Linked DNA regions of Homo sapiens: region 2 is linked to region 1. The links come from fine-mapping of genetic effects on gene expression. Tissue or cell type: nasal epithelium. Region 1 holds a variant in brackets; the other region holds the start of a gene. All regions are shown on one strand. Distances are between the middles of the regions.

Region 1 (11,732 bases):
AGTAGATTAGTGGTTGCCAGAAGCTGCAGATTGGGGGTAACAGCTAAGGAGAGTGGAGTGCGTTTTTGGGGGTATGAATAGTTTTAAAATTTATTCTGATGGTGGCTGCACAACTCTCAATATCTTGAAATCCATTGGATTGTATGCCTAAATGGGTGAATTCTATATGTTAATTATATCTCAATAAAGCTTTTTTTTTTTTAAAGAAAAAGAAGTACTAGGACATGTTTAGAATATTCTTTCAAAGGCTTAAACAAAGCTGAAAAGTGAGAAGAGCCCTAGATTCCTTCTGGGAAACCTGGCTTAAATCCAGTTTTCTTTATTTCCCAGATCTGAGAATTTGGTCACTGAGCAAATAACATGATATTCCTAAGTCTGATTTCTTTGTTTATAAAATGAGGATGAATATGCTACCCTACCTATACCACGAGCTAAATAAGCTAGTATTTGTAAAGGATACACACTCACACTCACATTCACACACAGGTATGTATGTATGTGTAAAAATGTAGGGACCTAACCCAAGCAACTGAGTATTTGTTGATCACTATCTGCACACAGCATCTGGCAAATGGATGCGTGTGATTTTTCCGGGGATAAGAGGCAAACGTATACTGATGGAAAGCCTTCCTCAGGCCATAACAAAGGGAGAAATGCTGAGTCCCCGACCCTGCCGCCACCATGAACTGGTGAGAGAACGGAATATATTCAAAGAGATATTTCACTGTTTTAACTTGCAAGTGAGGGGAGCATGACACCGTAACAGAGATGATATAAATTAGTCAAACTGAGAACCAGGCAAAGAGCTTAGCCGTCCTTTGCATAATTAGCTACATTGGCTCTTTTTCAATTAGACTGGCCATTATGTGGGTGCACTCATTTAGATTTGAAAAATCACCCATTATTTTCTCTGCCCATTCATTCCAGCACCCTGACAATCTTCACAGGAAACTTAAACTTATTTCTTGAAGAATTCCTCAATCTTATACAAGATTTTCAACTGGAAGTTTCATGAATCAAAAATTAAATGAATTGCACATAAAGCCATGGCATATGTATTTTTACTACATTGTGGGAGAAAAAATAATTCTTATAATTTAAAAAAACTATGTCTTACCTGATTTCAGAAATAAAAGAAGTAGAAGAACCACTTCCTTATGTTCCATTTTGGGACTGGCCAGCAGTGCCCAGAAAGTGGGTCCCAATCCCAGGATGTTGTTGACTTACATGAGAGTAAACGCATCCACAAACCAGATAGTCAAATTAAGTTAATGATTCTCTCAGAGACCCATGCCACTGGCTCAGCAGGGTTCAAACATTACCTTGAATAAAGAGTCCTTACAACATGTTTGAGGGTGGAATCTGCAATAGATGCTGGGAAGTGGTGAAAGCAATCTCCCCCCTCGGCTGCTCCACGCTGCCGTCATGTCTCCTTATTCCTTCCCTCACCCTTGTACTTTATCTCTCGCAATTAGTCTTATTTCCTCCCCTCTTCTCTTATTCCCTTTCTTTTGGAGAAAATGAAATCATAAAAGTATCTCACATTTGCTGGAACCTTCCATGACGAGACCCTCTGCCAAGCGCTGCACGTCCATAGCCTCCCTCAAGCTTCCCAACAGGCAGGGCTGTTCTCATTCCTGCTGTACGAGGGATGGGGCTGAGGCCTTCCCCAAGGTTGTGTCTCTACCCAGGGGTGCAGCTGATAGACAAAACCCCTTCAGGTCTTAGATGACAAACTTAAGTTAGGTGTAAACGTTAATATCTCTACATCCTACACCAAATGACATAGAAATTACGACATAAGTGAAAGTATCTTATTATCTTCAAAATTTATTTATTCCCAGTGAACTCACATGTTTTCTGTAATTATAAATTATGTTATAAGACATCAATCTTTCCCCCAAATGAACGTATGCCATATTATTATATTCTCATTCTCATGAAATAAAGCAAGACTGGTAGCATTAAGTGGAAAGCGTCTATCTCAATTTTAAATGTTGAATCTGTACTTTTCCCTGGCTTAAGTCTAGAGCAACCAGGTAGTATATATGCTGTAAAACTTCTATTTTAGTGTTCAAAGATATTTAGGAATAAATCAATTGACCTCTCTATTTTAGATGTGAAATAAGGACCAGAAAGCATTGTTCCTCTTTCCAGGCAGTGAAATTCCTGCCTATTCATTAACTGGCAAAAGAGTAGAGGTGGGAGCCCAATGGTCTTGGGTGGAATGTCCTGCGGAATTCCCTGGGATTGAGGAACCATGCAGAACCCTCAAGAAGAAGCCACACTGGGCAACAAGAGGGTGGCCCCATGTGAGGGACAGGGGGACCGAATCGCTTTTCCTGATTTCCTATTTTAGCCTCACTCTCTTCTCTCCTCAAATTCTTACCACTCCCTTTATCCTCTCTGACTCACCTCATGGCCCAGTTCATTAAAGGGGACAGAAGGTGGAGGCAGATTGAGAAACCAGCAGTGGGCAGACATTTTATTTTTAATGTGAAATGTCTCTTAGGGGGCTCATGTTGATGTGCTTGAGAAAGTACTCTGGGAAAAAAAAATACTCTACTAATATATAATGCTTCCAGCATGTATTTATTTCCACTTAAAATATTATTGTAGCAGTTCCTCTTGGATAAGGCACCTTGGGAATGATGTTATCAGAAATTCTACATCCACATAATTTTCTTTTCCTGTTGTTTTGGTTTTGACTTGGGTGGTGTTGGTATAGCTTTTGCCCACCTTTCCCCTGGTAGTTGTTGGATGCATTAAATTCTACAAATGTGATTTTATAAATTAGTTGCCCTCCTAATGGCCTCCTGGCTGTACATTCTTCCCTACCTTCATAATCCATCAGCATCGTGAAAGCACAGAGGGACGTTGAGCAGAGCTCTGTGCTGGCGCCACCGCACTCTGTAGCCTGTAAGAGAGCAGCAAAGAGGAATGTGTTGCTCAGGTATAGACGGGGGTGGGTGCATAGAGACTTCCGCTGCGGCATGGCCCTTCATGTCCAGGGTAGGCATGAAGCAATGGACTATTCCAGGTTGTGCATAGGAAACCACACAGCACTCTTGGAGGGATTTTTGCTCTAAAGACAACTAATTCAAAATAAGGCGCTTTCTACCTGAAAGAACAGCATGAACTAAGAAAAGAGATATATAGAGAGATCTCTGTGTACTATGATCAGGTTGCACATATTCTGGGATTTATGTATTCTTATTAGTTCAATTCCTTATTTATTGACCACTTACTGTTTACAATATTGTATTAGATTCTTTTAGGATTACAGTTGACCCTTGATCAATTTCAGGGGTTGGCACACTGACCATACACAGTAGAAAATCCAGGTATAACTCTGACTCTCAAAAACTTAACTACTAACAGCCTGCTGTTGACCAGCAACAGTTAATAACATGTATTTTGTATGTTATATGTATGATATACTGTATTCTTACAATAAAGTAAGCTAGAGAAAAGGAAATGTTCGTAAGGAGAAAATACATCTGTGGTACTGTTATGTATTTTTCCATACAGTAAGTTTACACCACCTGTTTACAAGATGAATCATCTGTCTGAAATGGAAGCAACCCCAGCTACAGACCTCAGTCTCTGTTACATATCAAGCAAATCCAGTTTTTCTTGTAATGTCAAATGTCATGACTTTTCTCTGCTTCTTGGGAGCACTTCCAGCATCACTAGTGCCACTTCATATTGGATCCCATGGTGTTATTCAAGGTTTACAGTACAGCACGAAACAGGACGAAAAATACATGCGAACAGGGAGAGAGCACTTTTTACTGTGATGCGCAATTCACTGGGGATGAACTGCTCATGATGGAATGTTGAGTATCACAGAACGTTTTAAGTGGATACTCGCAACACCTTTGCTCATTGCAACAGCAACAGGAGGAGGATATGAAATTATTACCATAGTGTGGTATGCACTACGGTTAAATTTATGCAGTTACAATTTAATACTGCATCTTGATGTTTGTATACACTTCTCTCAACTGAGAATAGCACCATATACGATCTGTGAGTGTGTACACAATTTTTACTAAATTTTAACTTTTGCAATAGTTTTGTTATATTTTATGGTAGTAAAGAATAAAATAGACTAGGTATCTACATATATTTTATGCATTCATGACATACTTAACTTTTTCTATTTTTGTTGATATTTCTAGCTGGATGGTTTGTCTTTGAGTTTTTTCAAATTGTTGCAAAACTCCAAAACATTTTCTAACACATTTATTGAAAAAAATCTGTGTGTAACAGTTCAGACGTGTGTTGTTCAATGATCAACTATATGTCTAAAGAGTACAAGTCAGTCTCTAACCTTCCCCAGCCTCTCTATGCTAAAGGAACTACAGGAAACTTTCGCACGCAAGATGTGTGGAGATTCTGCTGCTGCACTTGTAGCAGGCATAGGAACGTTCAAATAGGCTGGGCGCGGTGGCTCATGCCTGTAATCCCAGTACTTTGGGAGGCCAAGGCAGGTGGATCACGAGGTCAGGAGTTTGAGACCAGCCTGGCCAGCATGGTGAAACCCCATCTCTACTAAAAATACCAAAAATTAGCAGGGCATGGTGGCATGCTCCTGTCGTCCCAGATACTGGGGAGGCTGAGGTGGGAGAATTGCTTGAACCCAGCAGGCAGAGGTTGCAGTGAGCCGAGATCGTGCCATTGCACTCCAGCCTGGGTGAGAGAGCAAGACTCTGTCTCAAAAAAAAAAAAAAAAAAAAAAAAAAAAAGAACATTCAAATAAGATTGGAGACAAATTGAATTCTCCTTAGCTCTGCCCAGCATAAGGCCTGCAATCAAGATCCACTCAGGTCCTCTTAAGAAGGAATAGACGTCTCTTCCAGCATTAAAATGGTAAATTCCTTTCAAGTATTTACAAAGAAAGTTATAAACACCAGGAAACATCAACCTCACCAGGAGGTGAGGTAGAGTTCAACCTTCCATCTCACCTGAAGTGGAAAATGCAGCCAAGTCACAACTTCCTAGGCGAAGCACGTCCATGCAAGCTGGACTGCATTGCTGGCCTGACATTTGCACCTGGCAGCTCCACGCCACCCCTTCTTTCAACCTTCCTTGAGCCCAGGCTCTGCTGCCCGGGAACTGCCATTCTAGGACAGCTCATTTCATCAACATGAACTTCTCTGCATAGCCCCAAGAGGACAGCATCATTTCCAAATGGAACTAGCAAGAACTTAATTAATCTACTAAGGACTCATATAAAGCATCCCTCTGCCGTGGTAAGGGTCCTCGGCAAGTTTATCTGTGCCTTCGATGCCAATGTGCAGATTGTTTTTACTGCTGTTTTAGTGTATTAGGGCATACCAGCGAGGAGACTTGTACTAATTAACCTGGAGGTGGCTCTTCTTTCTTTAGTTGCCCTTTTCCACATGTTAGCCTTTGTTCATCAGTCCCCAGGACCATGCAATGAGGTGATTATCAGCCCTCATGTCCTGTAAAGAGATAGCAGACTATCTCTCAAGTTAGCACAGTGGTTAAAATGTAATCAACTCGGGGGCATTTTCTTTTCCTTTCTTTCTTTTTTTTTTTTGGAAACAGAGGCTGGCTCTGTCACCCAGGCTGGAGTGCGGTGGTGCAAACACAGCTCACTGTAGCCTTAACCTCCTGGATTCAAGCGATTCTCCCACCTCAGACTCCAGAGTAGCTGGGACCACAGGTGCACGCCACCACGCCCAGCTATTTTTTTTTTTTTTGTATTTTCTGTAGAGACAGGGTTTTGCCATGTTACCCAGGCTGGTCTTGAACTCCTGGGCTCATGAGATCCTCCTATCTCCGTCTCCAGAAGTGCTGGGATTGCAAATATGAGGCACTTTACCTGGCACTAGGGGACACTTTCTAAGTGAGACCTAACTCATTTGGGGCTCAGTGAGGTGATATTTTCTTAAATGAGTTGTGCTTGAAAAAATCTAGATATCTATTCATCTTTGAAAAAATTAATTTTCATTGGCTGTCTCCTCATCATTAATAAGCATGGCTGTGTTACATGCTTAAGACAAATTTTAGCAGAGAAGAAGACAGTCAGACCCGGATAACTTAGCAGCCTGCACTGAGTTGGCACCAGGACTCCCCAGAGGAGAGACGAGGGTCCTTCTGCTCTGAGGTCCAGACTCACCATGGATAAAACAGAGATGCACCAAATCATCCTTCCCACCTCTCACATTCATTGTTCTCTAAGCTTATTCGGAGAAAAAAAAACCTTATCTCACAGTATGTCGGGGAGATAAGTCATGTAGAAAAACATTAAAATATTTTCAGGAAAGCAAATGAGTGCACAAAAAACCTGGTGAAATCTGAGCAAGGTCTGCAGACT[AGTTTCTG/G]ATGTGGTGCCAATGGCAACTTTCCAGTTGTAATCATGAACTATAGTTATGTAAGATACTGCCTGAGGGAGGCGGGGCCATACAAGGACCTCTCAGTACTATATTTGTAACTTGTTGTGTTTATACTTAATTCAAAACAAAAATTATATGTATATATTTACATATATACATACATGTTATGTTTGCAATACATGTGCCTATATTTGGATACATGTGTCTATTTTAGGAGGACCCAGGATGATGTAACTGCTTTCACACTAGTTAAGAGAACTCCCAAAGCTCAGGGAAAGTCTAAAGTTATAGAGTTCCTAACTCAGGGTGCAGAACTCGGACTTTGGCTGATTCTCGTGAGCTCCTGGGATGAGTGGGTGGGACAGAGAGGCTTCTCCACCACCACGCTCCTTCCCTGGCTGGAGACCAGATGGTTAAGGACTGATGGGTGCCAGAGAGCAGCAGCACCCCATGTGGATCCAGAACCCAGAGGCTGGAGTAGTTCATGCCTGCTCCTGCCTCCCAGGTATTCAAGGGAAACCCACCATCTCCACACACCAGCAAAACACCAGCAAAACAGAGGCCCCAAGTAATGACTTCTCCGTTCTCATCTTATCTTGCCACCTGACCAGCTCCTGGGCTCCTCAATCCAAAGTTGGGGAAGAGAGAAGGGAACGTCAGTGGAAACCACTTTTGCTATAAACGCTCATCCTTCAGATGTTCTTTCAGTGGGTACAATGCTTAGTGCTGTGCTGGGTGCTAGGGAATCAAGAGTAAATAAGAGGCCATCTTTGCCCTCAGGGAGTCTTTGGTCTAACGGGGTTGGGGCAATGCAGGTCTGTAAACTGGAATTGTAAAAGTGAAGTGGCCCAGGTCCCATTTGCTGTAGTGGTGCACAGAGAGACAGTCTTGAGAGGTGAGGAGACATTTCCCAGAGGAAGTGACATCCAAGTTGAGACTTAGAAGACAGCTGGAAGGATGAGAAAGGAGAATAATTCTGTGAAGTCCTAATTAGGCAAAAGGAATCAGGCTGGTGACACTGAGGAAAAAAGAAAGAGAAAGCAGATAAGCTATAAGTTTGCCTTTCTTCATGGTCCAGGACCATAGCCCTCCTGCACAAATAACTCACAATCTTCCTGTGCCCAGCTATCACCAGGCCCTCAGCTGATAGAAAAATGCAGGTTATCCCACTGCAACCTTGGTGTTATCAGTACTGCACTAAGCCCTCTTCAGCACGCAGCACAAGCAACATCCTATAAAACCCCCAGCAAGCCTTTGTCTCTTGGCATTCAGCTCCTCTCTTGCTGGCCTGCCCCTTGCTGCCTTGCAACATATTTTCATGCTTTCTTTAATAAATCTGCCTTTCTTTATCTACAACTGTCTTGGTAAATTCTTCTTACTGCCCATGGGATACTGGCCTCAGATAGTTGCTTCACCTGCTACACATTCTTTAAGCAGAAGAAATATATGTGCAGGGTCCCAGAGGCGGGAGGAGCAGGCAGATGAGAGGAATTTGGCTAACATGGGGAAATGGTCCAATTGTGCAGGCTTCTCACTCTGTTTCAAGAAGTTTAGACTTCAGCCAAAGAAAGGCAGGGACTACTGTTACTGAAGGCTTTTAAAATCCAAGGGTGGCTTGATCTCTCTGATTGCAGTGTAGTGAGGAGGTCATAGGAGGTGAGAGATGAGAGGGGGTGAAAGAAGGCAGTGGAGAAAGAGAAAAAAGAATGGATTAGGGGGATGTTGAGAAAGTAGAATTGACATGATTTTGTGACTGACTGAATGTGGGGAATGAAATCAAGTATGCTGCCTGAATTTCTGTCTTGGACATCTGGTGGATAGTGGATCATTCATTAAGAAGGAACACATAGGAGGGAATAAGATGAAATTGCCTGGGGACAATGTTATGTTTAGGAACTTGAGAAAACCCAAGTGGAAATTTCCAGAAGGGAGTTGAATATTCTGGTTTAGAACAGGAGTTGGCAAATTATAGCCCATGAAGCAGGCTTATTTTTATAAATCAAGTTTATTGGAACATGGCCACACCCATTCTTTTACCATTTTCTGTGGCTATATTTGCACTACCTTAGCAGAGTTGAGCAGATGTGACAGAGACAGTACAATGAGCAGCAAGCTGATAAAATATTTGTTATCATCGCTTTACAGAAAAAGTTTGCCAATTCCTGGTGTAGAGCCTAGGAAAGAGGTCTGAGCTGGAGATGTGGAATCAGCAGTTGTCAGCAGATAGGTGGGATTGAAGCAATGGGGGTGGACAAGCTTGCTCAGAGAGAGAAAAAGAAGCCCTAGGATAAAGTCCTCAACAACATAAAGACCCAGAAGGAGAGAATTCTGTAGAGATGACTGAGAACAGTTAGCCAGAGGGGAAAATTGACAGCGTGAGTCCAGAGAAGCCAGCAAAAGTGAAAATTGTAAAAAGGTGGGAGTGGTCATGGGTACCAAAGACTTGTGAGAAATCAAGTGAGATGTATCCTGTGTATGCCAGAAGGTAAGAGCAAATGAGGCCAACATAACCTTAATAATACCAATCTCAATGGCCCAGACTCCAGCAAAGTCTACTCTGGCTACTGCTACCACTAAATATATATAAAACTCAGTAAAATAGCAATTTTAATTAAACAAATTCCTGACCTATTGCTGTAATACTCCTTTACCAACATTTTTGCCTGTGTATGCTTTGATTGCCTCTTCAATAATGTTGTAATATCATATTCTATGAGAGAAGAGAATAATAAACTATTTTGGCTCTAGTATTTTATTATTGATAGATTTAAATTTTTCTTCTGGCTTCATAGCTCATGATCGATAATGGAAGATTAGTTTTCAGGATTCTTGGCACACTTAGGAAAATCTTTATCAAACTATTTTTATGTATGAGCTGTAAGATTTGGTTTAATTCCCAGATGGGATGAGCTACACTCTTTTCTAGCTTTGTACATTTCTATTTTTCTTATTCAACTTTTATTTTAAGTTCAGGGATAAAAGTGCAGGGTTGTTACATAGGTAAACATGTGTCATGGGGGTTTGTTGTGCAGATTATTTCATCACCCAGGTATTAAACCTAGTACTCATTAGTTATTTTTCCTGACGCTCTCTCTCTTCCCATCCTCCAACCTCTGATAGGCCCCAGTGTGTGTTGTTCCCCTCGACGTGTCCATGTGTTCTCATCATTTAGCTCCTACTTATAAGTGAGAACATGCGATATTTGGTTTTCTGTTCCTGTGTTAGTTTGCTAAGAATAATGGCCTCCAGCTCCATCCATGTTCCTGCAAACGCACATGTCTTGTGACACAATCGTGATGTAATCTATGGTCTTGCATATTTACATTACACCTCTAGGTAAGTCAGCACAAGGGAGGTGAAGACTATTCTGAAATCTGTTTTACACAGGGACAGCTAGCAATAACATACACAGAAATGACTCCATACCACATAAATAAATCCCATGGAACCCAAACTCAATGACTCAACTCAATTCTTCTTTTGCTGGATCCTCAAAATGCCCACATCCACTCCACCACCACCCAACATGAGGGCAGAAAGAGATCAGAATTTTAGCCAATTACAGCTAAAATGTCTGCTTTTGACAAAAGCAAATGACCAAATGGATACATTGCCAGGGCCCCTCCAGAGCCTCAGAAAGGGCCTGTTGAAGTTGTCTTTTGCTATGGGATGAATCAAACCAAAACACAGTGGCTTAAAATAAGACGAATTATTTTATTTCTGAATTCTGAAGGTCTGCTGGGTTTGGCCAGGTGATTCTCTTTCTTGTGGTCTCTTAGGTCAGTGGTGGCTAGGGCTGAAACCATCTCAAAGCCTTCCTCACGCACATCTCATGGGTGATCCCAGCTGTTGCTGGAATCTCATCTGTGACTATCGGCCAAAACACTCAGAACTTCTCCATGTGTCTGGGCTTCCTAGAAGCCTGCAACTGGCTTCCAACAGAATCAGGCAGAAGTTATTTCTCCTTTACAGTCTAGCCTGGAAATACTCCAGCATCATCTGCATGAGAGTCACAAGTCTCCCCAGATTCTAGGGAAGGACATATAGACCCCACCTTTCCATGGGAGGACTATTGGCCTCATCCTGTAAGAAGAGTACATGTGGCTGGAGTCTTGTGGCTGCCATCTTGGAAAATACAATCTGCCATGGGACTCATGCAAGGAAGGAGCCCTGAGCCTGAATGTTATTAGCTTTTCTGTGCATCGGTCTCTATTTGCGCATGTTCCATAATTCGTCTCCTTCCAGAGCTTGCCAAAAGTGTCCCGCTATAATCTTTCCCTCTCCCATGTTGACACAGGTCAAATCCTTGAACTCTGTTGCCCAAATAGCTTCAAGCACATCTGCTTCCACTGAAGGTTGAGCCAAAGGTTAGTCTCCTCCCCCTCCACTAGTGGTGGCCTGAACCCCCAATATCACTGTGTCTTTGTTAGGTAAAGGGACTTGTATATTTATGGCAGGTGGTACCTGAGGAATAAGCTCTGGCTGTCATTGCACACAGAAAGTTAGGTTTCTGCTATTTCAGAGGATAGCCCCCCCTTGTGTTCAGTCAGAGGTGTAACCAGACACAGTTTTATGGGAATCAAAAGTGTTGCAATCTTTAATTGCCATAAACATGCAATCCTTCTTCCACAAAGCATGCTGAAAGATGTGCTTTTTGGTGCTGTGGTGGCAGGGTTAAAATGGAGTTTTAGCATTCGTCCCACTTTCTATCTCAAACCAGTAGTCCCTCCAACCCGACATCACGGTGTTGGGGGAGACCGCTAAGTGCTTGGCACAGCCAGCCATGTGGTATGGAGCCACTTCTGTGGCTGTACCACCATCTGACAGTAACCTCACGAGAGACCCCAAGGGAGAGAACTGCCTGGTCAAGCCCAGCCAAACTCCTTTTCCCCTTAATGGAACATTCTCTCAGGAAGCCTGGCTGTTTCTAACAAATTGATCTTGGCCCAGAGCCATCGCAATTTGTACAAGATTTTATATCCCTGCACCTCAATAGTCATGAGAGTGCTGGCTTCTCAGTATTTTTCTTCCAGGCAGACTGCTCTGGCCCACCAGGTGAATCAGGGTTGTGTTTAGATGGTTAGGAGACTCCTCCCAAGTTTAAAACAGTGTCCAAGCCTCAACTGTAAATCAACTGGGGAGACACCCCAACCCTAATCACCAGCACTGTCTGAGCTCCAGTCCCCGCTCTATCAAGATGTCCTTTTAGAAAGATAAGGACTAAAAAATGCTCACTGAGTTTGGCGATGACAGTCAGTAGAGGGGTGGGAAGAGAAATCACGCCATATGTCTCAGCCCACTTGTGCTGCGGTAACAAAGTGTCACAGTCTTTGATGGATTACCCAGATGACAGCCTGGGTAACC
Region 2 (11,732 bases), 33 kb after region 1:
GCAGGGGACCTGCAGCTAAGGGAGAGGCAGACAGGCCCCATGGCCCCAAATCTAGGATAGTATTTGGTATTGGTTGATGGGTGAGAGAAAGAGAGGGAACATCTGTGCAGGATGTGGTATCAGCACCTGGACTACATCTTAGGGATTCCTTCTTCATTTTTCAGTATGCCCTGACAATAATTATATCTATCAGACTTACCCCCTTGACCACTGGAACACTAAGACTGTTTTGGGATCTCTGCCTGACTTTCTCAGAGGTGCTGGTGAGGACATTATGAGTCTGGAACCTAGAAAAGCGTTCTGACTCTGCTGACTTTCTCAGAGGTGCTGGTGAGGACATTATGAGTCTGGAGCCCTAGAAAAGCGTTCTGACTCTGCCACTAGCCAGACAGACCTGGACTAGGCACGTTAACTCTTTGTATGACTTGACTCCAACCCCTCATTTGTAAAACCAGCATTTTCAAGTGGTGTTTTCCACATCAGCCTTTTGCATAAGCTGTCATTTGAAGAAAGGTTTTTGTTTGTTTGTTTTTTGTTTAACAAAAAGGTTAAAAACCACTGGTCTAGATAATTGCAAAGTTTGCTTTCCTTTTTCTGTGCTTTTTCTACTATTTTTAAAATGTCATCCTCCTTGGTTTCTTGATCCCCCTTTCTGCACTCCTGAGTCTGGGAACACTGAGGCCAACTAAAAGGAAACTTGGCAAAAGAGGAACACCTTTGGGTGTGCCAGGCTGCTCCCAGTGTTTTGCACTTATAAAAATTTAAATGCTGCAAACCTCTAAGACTTAGATATTATTGTTCCTATTTTACAAGTGAGGAACCTGAGGCTCAGAGAAGGTGCAGGATGGCACAGGGAGACCTGAATTGGAACCCTGGTTCCCACTTACTGGCTGTCGGGACTTAGAAAAGTCATGAACTCTCATTGATTGTTTTCTTATATGAAATGGGGGCTGCAGGGTTGTCGGGGGAGAAACAATAAGAATGTGCATCAAGTGTCGAGCACGTGCTACGCACTCCATCATGGCAGCTCCTACTAATATACAGAATAGAGTTGTATCTAACATGACTCTTTCTTGCAAGTGACAGAAAATCCAACTTAAGATGGATTAAGCAAAAAAGGGGAATTCTTGTTGAGCTGAAAAGTCTTTAGGCTCACATGATGGCCCCAGGGCCCAGGCCCTGTCCAGCCATGCAGTAGGCATCATCCTTGGGCACAAAGGTGAGATTCTTGTGGTGGCAGATGCTGTGGCAGCTCTTGCTTTGCCAGGAAAGACTGAGGAAGGCCACTGTCCCCATTAAGTGAACAATAGTTGGCCAGGTCTGAGAGGTTGAACTTGGGTCACAGGCCTGTCCCTGAACCCATCACTGATTGGCTCCAACCTGCATCAGCTATTACATGCTAGAGGTGGAGGCAGGACCCCACTCATACCCAGAAGGGCAAAGGGTGGATCCCTCAACAGGATTATGGGATGTAGGGTGATAGACTGCTGGGCAGCCAGAAAGCAAACAGATCCTCTCCAATACCTCAACTGATGAAAGCACCAAGCTAAAATCATAAGGATCTGGGTGTGAATTCTGGCTCTACCATCTTCCATGTGACATTGGGCAGTTATTTAATCTCTTTTAGCCTTGGCTTTCTTACCTGTACTAACATATAAGGTGATTGTGATGAGCATCATCATCGTCAACATCATCATCACCATCCACATTGCCACCACCACTCCCATTATCATCTTCATCAACATCATCACCACCGCCACCATCACCATTATCATTACCACCACCGCTATCACTATTATCATCACCCTCAACATCATCACCATCATCACTATCATCACCACCACCATCATCGTTACTACCACTACCACCACCATCATCACCACAGCCACCACCACCATCACCATCATTACTACTCAGCACCACCATCATCATTCCACCACCATCACCATCATTCCACCATCACCATTATCATTACCACCACCACTGTCACTATTATCATCACCCTCAACATCATCACCACCACCATCATCATTACTACCACCACCACCACCATCACCATCATCATCATTCTACCACCATCACCATTATCATCACCATCACCATCACCACCGCTATCATCATGATAATCATTATCATTACCACCACCATTAGCATTATCATTACCACCACCATCACTATCACTATCACCATCACCACGACCACTACCACCATCACCAACACCATCATTACTACCCACCACCACCATCATCATCATTCCACCACCATCACAATTATTACCACCACCACCATCACCACCACCACCACCATCACTATCATCATCAGTAGACATCATATAACCAGTTTGTAGCTGGCCCAGAGCCTACTTGCTGTTTCTTCTGCCCCACAACCATCCACACATTTCTAACCACCATCCCCCACTAGGCTTCTGCCTCGCCTGGTCTCACCTGCAGGTCCACTGAGAAAATGATTCTCAGAACACTAACTAGACCATGAGGTGCCACAAAACATAACTCAGGCCTGTTCATCAATTTTCTACATGTCAATAATGACATCAGGTCAATTGGCGTTCTCAGCCTCTGAGAGGGAGGTCAAAGTTTTCCTGCTCTCCCCTTCATGTTTCCAGGTGTTCCCTGACTTGGATCAAATGCAGAGTTTGGAGGTGTTGAGGCCAAGGGGATTTTCCAGGTCAGTCGTCATCCACAATCAATGGACTGATCCTGCCGCTGGACTTACCCTGCTGCCCTCTCCCCAAGGCCCCATCAGGGAGGGCTTCAATCCTCTTGTCACCTGTGGCCTACCTGCCCTCAGAGATGACATCTCTATGTCGGCCACTGGATGGCAGCACCTACTCGCAGACCACATCAACTTTCCTGGCAACTTGCGGTAGGTTTTCACCATTATCAGGATGTTTGCCTTGCTCAAATAGCAGATTCTAGAGAACGGTGCTCCCTCACACAACTATGTAGTCCAGGTGATGCACCCTCTGCCCGATGCTTGGTAGTCAGAAACTTCCATCATGCAGCTCTGCCCAGATTGAGCTGAGCTGGCCTCTGGAGTGAGGTGCTGGGACAAACATCTTCCATGCTGCTCATGTCAACTCCAGATGCAGTCAGGTTTCTGAACCAAAGTCAATGATCTAAGTGCAGTCAAAGGCTCTGGGGGAAGAAAGAGAGAGTGCCTCATCTCTTGCCTGTGCCATGCTCGCAAAGCAAGGATTTTTGCAAAATTCTAATGAAAGCTGGGCTTGCAAAATTAGAAAACTGGATTATTTGTGAGAACACTGAAACATCCCTGGGTGTGTCCATCTGGAAAAACAGCATTTCCTCTGGCAATTTTGCAACCGTTCTATTTGAATTTGGCAAAGAAAATAAAGCAGTTTTTCACAAAAGAATAAACACAACCAGGAGAATCTTCACTCTCCCAAATTGTCAAAGAAGTATAAATTAGAAAATGAATCAGGACAATTTCAACCTGTTAGATTAGCTAATATTTAAAAATTGAACACTCATACAAGTGTGGTGAAGTGATTGTTTTCTAGTGACATTTTACACTGTCATAACCTTCTAGAAAATAAATTGGCAGTGTTATTGGGAGACAGAAATATGTCTATATAATTTATGGGAACTTAGGCTCAGAAAATATTAAGGAATAAGAATGAACTTTATGAACAAAGATGTGGAGGGTTGGAAGCAAGAGGGGGGCCAACGCGCACGGGGAGGAAGCATTTGGGCAGTGACTCCGCAGACCCAGGCTCAGGTTGAACTAGACAACCTCCTTACACCTCAGTTTCCTTAACTGTAGAGCAGGAGTGATGGAACTGCCTGTTTCATAGGACTGTTGTGAGGATGAAGTGAGATACACCACATTATAAGCTTGTGCCTGGAAAGGATAATGCTTAGTAAATGATGACTATTCTTTTTTATTGCAATAAAATGTACACAGCGTAAGAGTTACTATTTTAACCATTTTTGCAGGGTACCACCAAGTGGCATTTAGTACATTCACAGTGGTGTGCAACCATCATCATATTTCCAGAATATTTTCCTCATCCCCAAAGGAAACCTCATGCTCATTAATCAGTAGCTCTCCTTTAAAATATTAGTTATGAAGATCATAGCACTATACAAAACTCATTATGTAATGTTGAGTGAAAAAATCAGGGTGTGAAATTTTGTGATATGATGTAATTAGTGAAAGAAGCATACAAAAAGTCTGAAAATATAAAAACAATAGCAATTGCATTTCTCAGACTCTACATTTAAACATTATTCTTTATGGTTTTAAAAGCAAAGAAAAAGGTAAAGAAACAACAACCAACCGCAAAGCACCATGACAAAGCTCAGATTGTTAAATCCAGGTTTTTGGAACATAGACTCTTATATGACGTTTACACTCTCCAGGGTTCAGAGAGTCTGGCAGCATTGGGAGCTGCCTTGTGTTCTACAGCCTCACGGACAGACAGGAGGTCCATCACCACTGCTCTGTTCTTCTGGAGTTTCCTTGTGAACATGTTGTGGACGTAGTTACCATTTCTTTCATCTTTTTAAACACAGGTACCTTTGGGGCTGGCTTTCTCAAGGAAGCCCAGCTCCCTGTGATTGAGAATGAAGTGTGCAATCGCTATGAGTTTCTGAATGGAAGAGTCAAATCCACTGAGCTCTGTGCTGGGCATTTGGCTGGAGGCATTGACAGTTGCAAGGTAAGAAAAGATCAAGAGACCAAAGTTAGTCTTGTGCTCTCCTGTCTCAGTCTCAGTCCCTTAGACTTGAGTCCCAAAGTAGCGAATTCAAGTAGGATTTAATCAATGGAAGACCCCAGTCTAAGTGTTGCTCAGAAACTCCCTAGATCTGTCCCAAATGTATATTCAGATCATCCAAGGGGACTTCTTGGGGCTTGAGTTCCAGATCAGCAGCAAGGGAGCCATAAGTGCCATAACTACCTCAGACCACTCACCCTCCTGGGGTGTCCCGGTGGCCAGGGACTAAAGTGGTGATTTTTCTGGTAGGGAAGGAGGTAGAGGGTACAGGACAGAGACTAACTGCACACAATATCTGAGACTGGAGCTCAGATATTGCTGATGATCAGAGTTGGCGTGTCTCCCCAATTGATTTACAACTGGGGCTTGGATACTGTTTTAAACGGGAGGAGCCTCCTAACCATCTTGACACAACCACTGACGTGACTACACTAGAGATAGACTCTTTCCACTTAATTCTACCACTCTTGCTTTACTTCATGAGAACGAAAATGTAAGATTGCACCATGAATTCATTTGCGGAAAGATTGATACTATGCTTTTATTTTATTTTATTTTATTTTATTTTATTTTATTTTATTTTATTGAGACTCTCACCCCGGTTGAAGTGCACTGACGTGATTTTGGCTCACTGCAACTTCCACCTCCTGGGTTCAAGTGAATACTCCAGCCTCCCTAGTAGCTGGGATTACAGGTGCCCACCACCACGCCTGGCTAATTTTTGTATTTTTAGTAGAGATGGGGTTTCACCACATTGGCCTGGCTGGTCTCAAACTCCTGACCTTGTGATCCACCTGTCTTGGCCTCCCAAAGTGCTGGGATTACAGAGTTGAGCCACCGCACTCGACCCTATGTTTTATTTTTAAAAATATTTATTTATTTATTTAAGCCACAACTACTAGAATAGGAAGGATTGATATTTTATTAATTTTATTTGGTATTTATTATTTTTTTTTCTTTCCTGAGACATTCTTGCTCTGTCACCCAGGCTGGAGTGCAGTGGCACATTCTTGGCTCACTGCAACCTCCATCTCCTGTGTTCAAGCAATTCTAGTGCCTCAGCCTACTTAGTAGCTGGGATGACTGGCATGTGCCTCCACACCCAGCTAATTTTTGTATTTTTTGTAGAGACAGGGTTTTGGCATGTTGCCCAGGCTTGTCTCAAACTCCTGGCCTCAGGTGATCCATCTGCCGTGGCCTCCCAAAATGCTGGGATTATAGGCATGAGCCACCACCCCCTCCTGGAAGGATTGATATCTTATAACATAATTTATAATTACAGAAAACATGTGAGTTCACTAGGAATAAATAAATTTTGAAGATAATAAAAGATTTTCACTTATGTTGTCATTTCGGCACAGTTTGGTATAGGATGTGGAGATGTTAACATTTATACCTAGCTTGCTCGTAAACTAAGACCTGAAAGGGTTGTGTCTATCAGCTGCACCCCTGGGTAGCGACACAACCTCGGGAAGGCCTCAGCCCCCTCCTCGTACAGCACTGCCTGTTGGAAAGCTTGAGGGAGGCTATGGATGTGCAGCACTTGGCAGAGGGTCTGGTCATGGAAGTTACCAGCAAATATGAGCTACTTTTATGATTTTATTTTATCCAAAAGAAAGAGAATGAAAGAAGAGGGGAGGAAACAAGACTAATCAGGAAAGATGAAGGTCTAGGGGTGAGGGAAGGAGTAAGGAGACATAAAGGCAATGTGGAGCAGCTGAGGGGGGAAATGGCTTTCACCACTTCCCAGCATCTATTGACATTGCACTCTCAAATATTTTATAAGACTCTATATTCAAGGTAATGTTTGAACCCTGCTGAGCCAGTGGCATGGGTCTCTGAGAGAATCATTAACTTAATTTGACTATCTGGTTTGTGGGTGCGTTTACTCTCATGTAAGTCAACAATGTCCTGGGATTGGGACACACTTTCTGGGCACTGCTGGCCAGTCCCAAAATGGAACATAAGGAAGTGGTTCTTCTACTTCTTTTATTTCTGAAATCAGGTAAGACATAGTTTTTTTAAATTATAAGAATTATTTTTTCTCCCACAATGTAGTAAAAATACATATGCCATGGCTTTATGTGCAATTCATTTAATTTTTGATTCATGAAATTCCCAGTTCAAAATCTTGTATATGATTGAAAAATTCTTAAAAAAATAAGTTTAATTTCCCCGTGAAGACTGTCACGGTGCTGGAATGAATGGGCAGAAAAAATAATGGTTGATTTTTCTAATCTAAAAGAGTGTGCCTACATGATGGCCAGTCTGGCTGAAAAATAAATAGCCATTGTAGCTAACTATGCAAAGGATGGCTAAGCTCTTCGCTTGGTTCTCAGTTTCATTAATTTATATCATCTCTGTTCAGGTGCCATGCTCCCCTCACTAGCAAGTTGAAACAATGAAATAACTCTTTGAATATGTTTGGTTCCTTGACCTGTTCATGGAGTGGGACTCAGCATTTCTCTCTTTGTTATGGCCTGAGTAAGGCTTTCCATCGGTATACATTTGCTTCTTATCCCTGGAGAAATTATACACATCCATTTGCCAGATGATATACGCATATAATGATTCAACAAATACTCAGGGTATTTGTTGAGTGGGTTAGGTCCCCACATTTTTATACATACATACACACATACACACCGTGTGTGATTGTGAATGTAAGTGTGTGTCCTTTACAAATACTAGCTTATTTAGCTCATGGTATAGGTAGGGTAGCATAGTCATCCCCATTTTATAAACAAAGAAATCTAGACTTAGGAAAATCATGTTATTTGTCTCGTGACCAAATTCCCAAATCAAGGAAATAAAGAAACCTGGATTTAAGCCAGATTTCCAAGAAAAAATCTAGGGCTCTTCTCACTTTTTCATCTTTGTTCCAACATTTGAAAAAATAAATCTAAACACATTCCAATGTAACTGAAGAGCAGGTTAATTGTTTGCCACTTGCAGAATCCAATTAAGAAGAGAGAAGTCTGGTATAAAGAAAGTGATTTGCTTCCAAAGCTAGCTTAGGGGAAGAAATGCAGCAGTCCTGCCGTACTACTTCACTTTAGGAGCAGAAAGTGGCACTTTTAAAAGGCAACAGAGGAGGCGAGCAAGGATTCAGGGGTCCATGCTAGCTTGGGCACCTTATCCACCAGGTAGTTGAGCAGTTGCCTGCTGGTGCCTTTGTGAGCAGGGTGTTGTCCCTTGAGGCAAATCTCTGGAGGGTGAGAGTTTTGTAGTGGGCATGCTTTGGTTTATAAATCACCTGTGAACTCAGGAGTTCCATCTTGAAGCACATACATAGTTAGATGAACTTGCCCTGCAGGGAGAGTCTGATGAAAGGGAGGTAGATGCTTGCAATTTAATCTATAAATTACCAGATAAAATTTTACAAGTTGACTTTAAAGTCAAACACATTTGAATTTAGTGGAAGCCATTCAAGAAAATATCAAAGAAAATACAGAGCAGGAGAAGATTAAGCAAAGAGTTTTTTGGGGAAATTGGTGTCTATGTCTGTGTGTGTAGGGAGTGCAGGGGATATGAATATTCTATTTCAGCCCATGGAAACTAGGATGTAGATCACTGTGAACTTATTCAGCAGGCTACACCCAAAGGCTAGAACAAACTTCTCTGCCACAGGATTAACATATGTTTTAATCGACCTGGGGGGCACATTCTCTGATAAGCTCTTTTGGAAAGCCAGGCTTTCTGTGGACGTGTTATCTTTCCAATGTGTGCTGGAATGCCCGGGGAGAGGAAAAAGTTTCTTTTACAGCCATGCTCAGTGAGAAGCGGAGAAACATCTTCTATTCACAAATTGCTAAGTCTTTTACACATGCAAATATGCATACACATTCACACACCACAGTGAGGAAGAAATTCTCACACCATTAATAAAATACATTTACTTCAGTAGCAATATACATCTACATTTTGCCTATAATATAAAAGTATTTTTCCTATTAAAAGATTTGTTTAATGTTTCTTCACCAACAAATAAACCCTATTAAATCCCCATTGCCATATGAGCCCTGGAGGTGAATCAGAGAAACAAAAGGATTGTGGAAAAATCATCAGGTTAAAAAAAGAAAAATTGATTCTGTTTTGGGATATTTCCTAGCAACATGAGCTGGGGAGGGGATCTCAGCAGTGATGCTCTATGAAGCATAATAAAATGACACAGTTACAGGTAACTTAGTTAAAGGGGGAAATAAATGGAAGTTTCCTCTTTTTGAATATCAATTGTAGCCTGCTCTGCTACATTTCAAAAACACTCTTCAAAATGTTTAACTGAACTCACTGTAGGAAGCACCTTATTAATTTATTGTGTGTTTTGAAGTCACACTGTGAGCTATAGAATTTACCCAAGCACAACTCTTCCTGGAAAAGAGAGTTCAAATGAGAAACAGTGCGGGGTGAAGACATGGATATGGGCCTAAAATATCTATTTCTCAATGATATTTTGATATATCTATCAAGTGCTTTTTAGTGGATTAGGTTCAGAATGCATCAGCCAATGCCTGTTCAATAATCCAGTTTTCCAGCATAGAGCATATTAAATTGAGGAAGGACAAAGTCACAGAGGTGGGGAGCAGGTGGACTGTGGCCAAGGACTTTGCATGAAACAGTGAGCGTGCATCCTCCTCCTTGCCCTGCCCTCATGGTCTGTGTACTCTCAGGAGGTCAGGACAGGCCTTTCTGAGAATGAGAATCTGTTCATCTGCCTTTCTACTGGATACTTGTCATCGGCATACAAACACATGTTCTCTGCAGTGTGTCATCTTTCAGAACCTCCCCTGACCCTGTATTCCCTAGAAGTCTCGCTGCTTTCAGAGCCAGGCTTCTCTCCTGCTGCCACCCCCACTGCTCTTCTAGTCACTCTTTAACCCACTCCATCTGCATGTGGCCCCCACCACACCCCTCAAAGTGGTCAAGGTTGTCCTGTTGCTTAATTCCATGGAAGCTTGGCTATCTTCATTTTATTAGCCTCTTTTGGCCTCTCACCCTGTGAAAATCACTACATTTTGTGCCAGAGATGGAGCTGGCATCTCCAGGCTTGGAAGAGGGCTGCTGAAGCTCAGCCAGGTGTCCTAAGGAGCCTCAGGACAGGGGATGCTCAGTAGCCTTGCAATGGGAACACAGCTGAGCCCCACTTGGCCACCCTTTGCCACAACCAGGCAGAAAGCAGCTTTTGAACAGATTTGTTGCCTCAGATTTGATCTCAAAGAAAAATCGTGGGCAGTATTGGTCCCAGGTTCTGCTTTTTTACAATTTCCTCTGAAATCTGGATGCCTATCAACACCTTGGAAAAACTGAATTCTCCCCAACTAATAGTGGTGTGTCACTGTAGTAAGCCTAGTACAAAAATGGCCTTCTTTGTGGAGGAGCTTCATATCCTCCATTTTTTTTTTGCTTAATTTTTGCCCAAGATGAGAACATAATTTAGTTCACTTTTTATTTATTCCCAACATCATCCATGCACCAACATTTTTGTAACTAAAGGAGGGACCATTCAGAAGATGCTTATCAACTGTCAAAGTGACAGTGTTACAACCAATGCACATATTGTAAGAAATCAAACAATGGCCTCCAAGGTTCATTTCTACACAGGGATTAGCAGATCAACATCAATCTTGGCAACACAGTTGCCACTGATGGTGTCTTATTTTTTTTATCATGACATGGCAATCAAGAGCAAACATGATTTATTCTTATTTAAGATTTTATGGTTAGACTAGGCAGATAGCTAGATATGAGCAGGAGGTGGAAGCCCCTGAGAGAATGGAGGTCTGGAGAATCTGAAACCCCAGAGATTACCCAAGTCCTGCATGCTAGACATGAGTGGAGGAGGGGGAATACCTAGGTAGAAAAGAATGCCCCTTAAGATGCCCAGCAGTCGCTCACTGTGCAGTTAACTTTTCAGAATGCTGCTAGATACATGCTGATAGGGAGGGAAGAGGGCAAAGGAGAAATTCCTAAGAGATACACGGTTGCAGTTAGTATACATCTGAGTGCTATACAACCTTCTTTGGGTGGTGGCAAGAAGCAATGCAGCCATTACGTAGAATTCATATCAAACACCTGTATCACAGGTGTTAAAGAAACAAGAAACATTGTACTTCTTGTATTCTTAATAATGATTTGCAATATTGTCTTTAGTATCACTGCAAACCTCTATAAATATGATTTTTAAAAAGTATTTCTTTAGGTTGGAATTACTTCTACGCATTGACTTATCTTCCTGGGTTTCATTAGCCGTACCCGTTGTACTTTCTTCCTTACCACTGTTTATCTCAAACTCTTGAGATTAAAGTATGGGCTCAGGAGGGAGCGAGGAGCTTCAGGACTCTCACGGACCTCCAGCACAGTGTAGCTGCCTTATGGAAAAGTGGCCACACTGTTTTCTGCACTGGTCCCTGCCCCTACTATTCCTCACTGGGCAGAGCACAGCCACCCTGGCCCTGCCTGAACATTTTAGTCAGTGTTGGCTCTGTGCTTCTCTGGGGAGGAAATCCAAGAGACAACCCACAGCCCCTCTGCCATTTCAGCTGCAGCAGTACCACCGTTAATGCCCTTGGGCTTGAGAAAGAAGGGACCTGGCCACTTCCCTGACACCTCCAGCACACAGCAGGGAAAGAATTCCAGTTTCTCTTTCTTGTGAGCTTTCACCTGCTACTCTTCACCAGGCAAGGCTCCTGGCTTGGGCCCACAGTGCAGGCACCTCGAACTCAGTTGAACATTTCCACTGGCTGCACTCTGTGTTTTTGTGGGGTGAAGCTCCCAGAGGTGACTGAAAGTCCTTCTGCCACTAACACTGCAGTCATACTGCCCTTGCTGTACTTGGACTAGGGAAGGAAAAAAGATCCTGAGTGCTTTACTCACACCCCAGTGTGCCCCAGCCACCCTATGGAAAAGAGGCCAGTGTGTCATCCCTGCAAGCACCCTGAGGCCCCTGCCCCTGCTGCCCCCAAGCTGTAGAGCCAGA

The links.
Region 2: LPA starts here. The variant in region 1 is fine-mapped to the expression of LPA in nasal epithelium (TOPMed, PIP above 0.99).

What each region holds. Positions count from the first base shown.
Region 1 is chr6:160,691,739-160,703,470 of GRCh38, reverse strand. It overlaps PLG (plasminogen), which reads right to left and starts at 1,227. Exons shown (of 19, transcript NM_000301.5): 1 at 1,118-1,227. The coding sequence starts at 1,166. The variant AGTTTCTG/G (reference allele first, on the strand shown) is at 6,350.
Region 2 is chr6:160,659,195-160,670,926 of GRCh38, reverse strand. LPA (lipoprotein(a)) reads left to right here and starts at 6,652. Exons shown (of 39, transcript NM_005577.4): 1 at 6,652-6,761. The coding sequence starts at 6,713.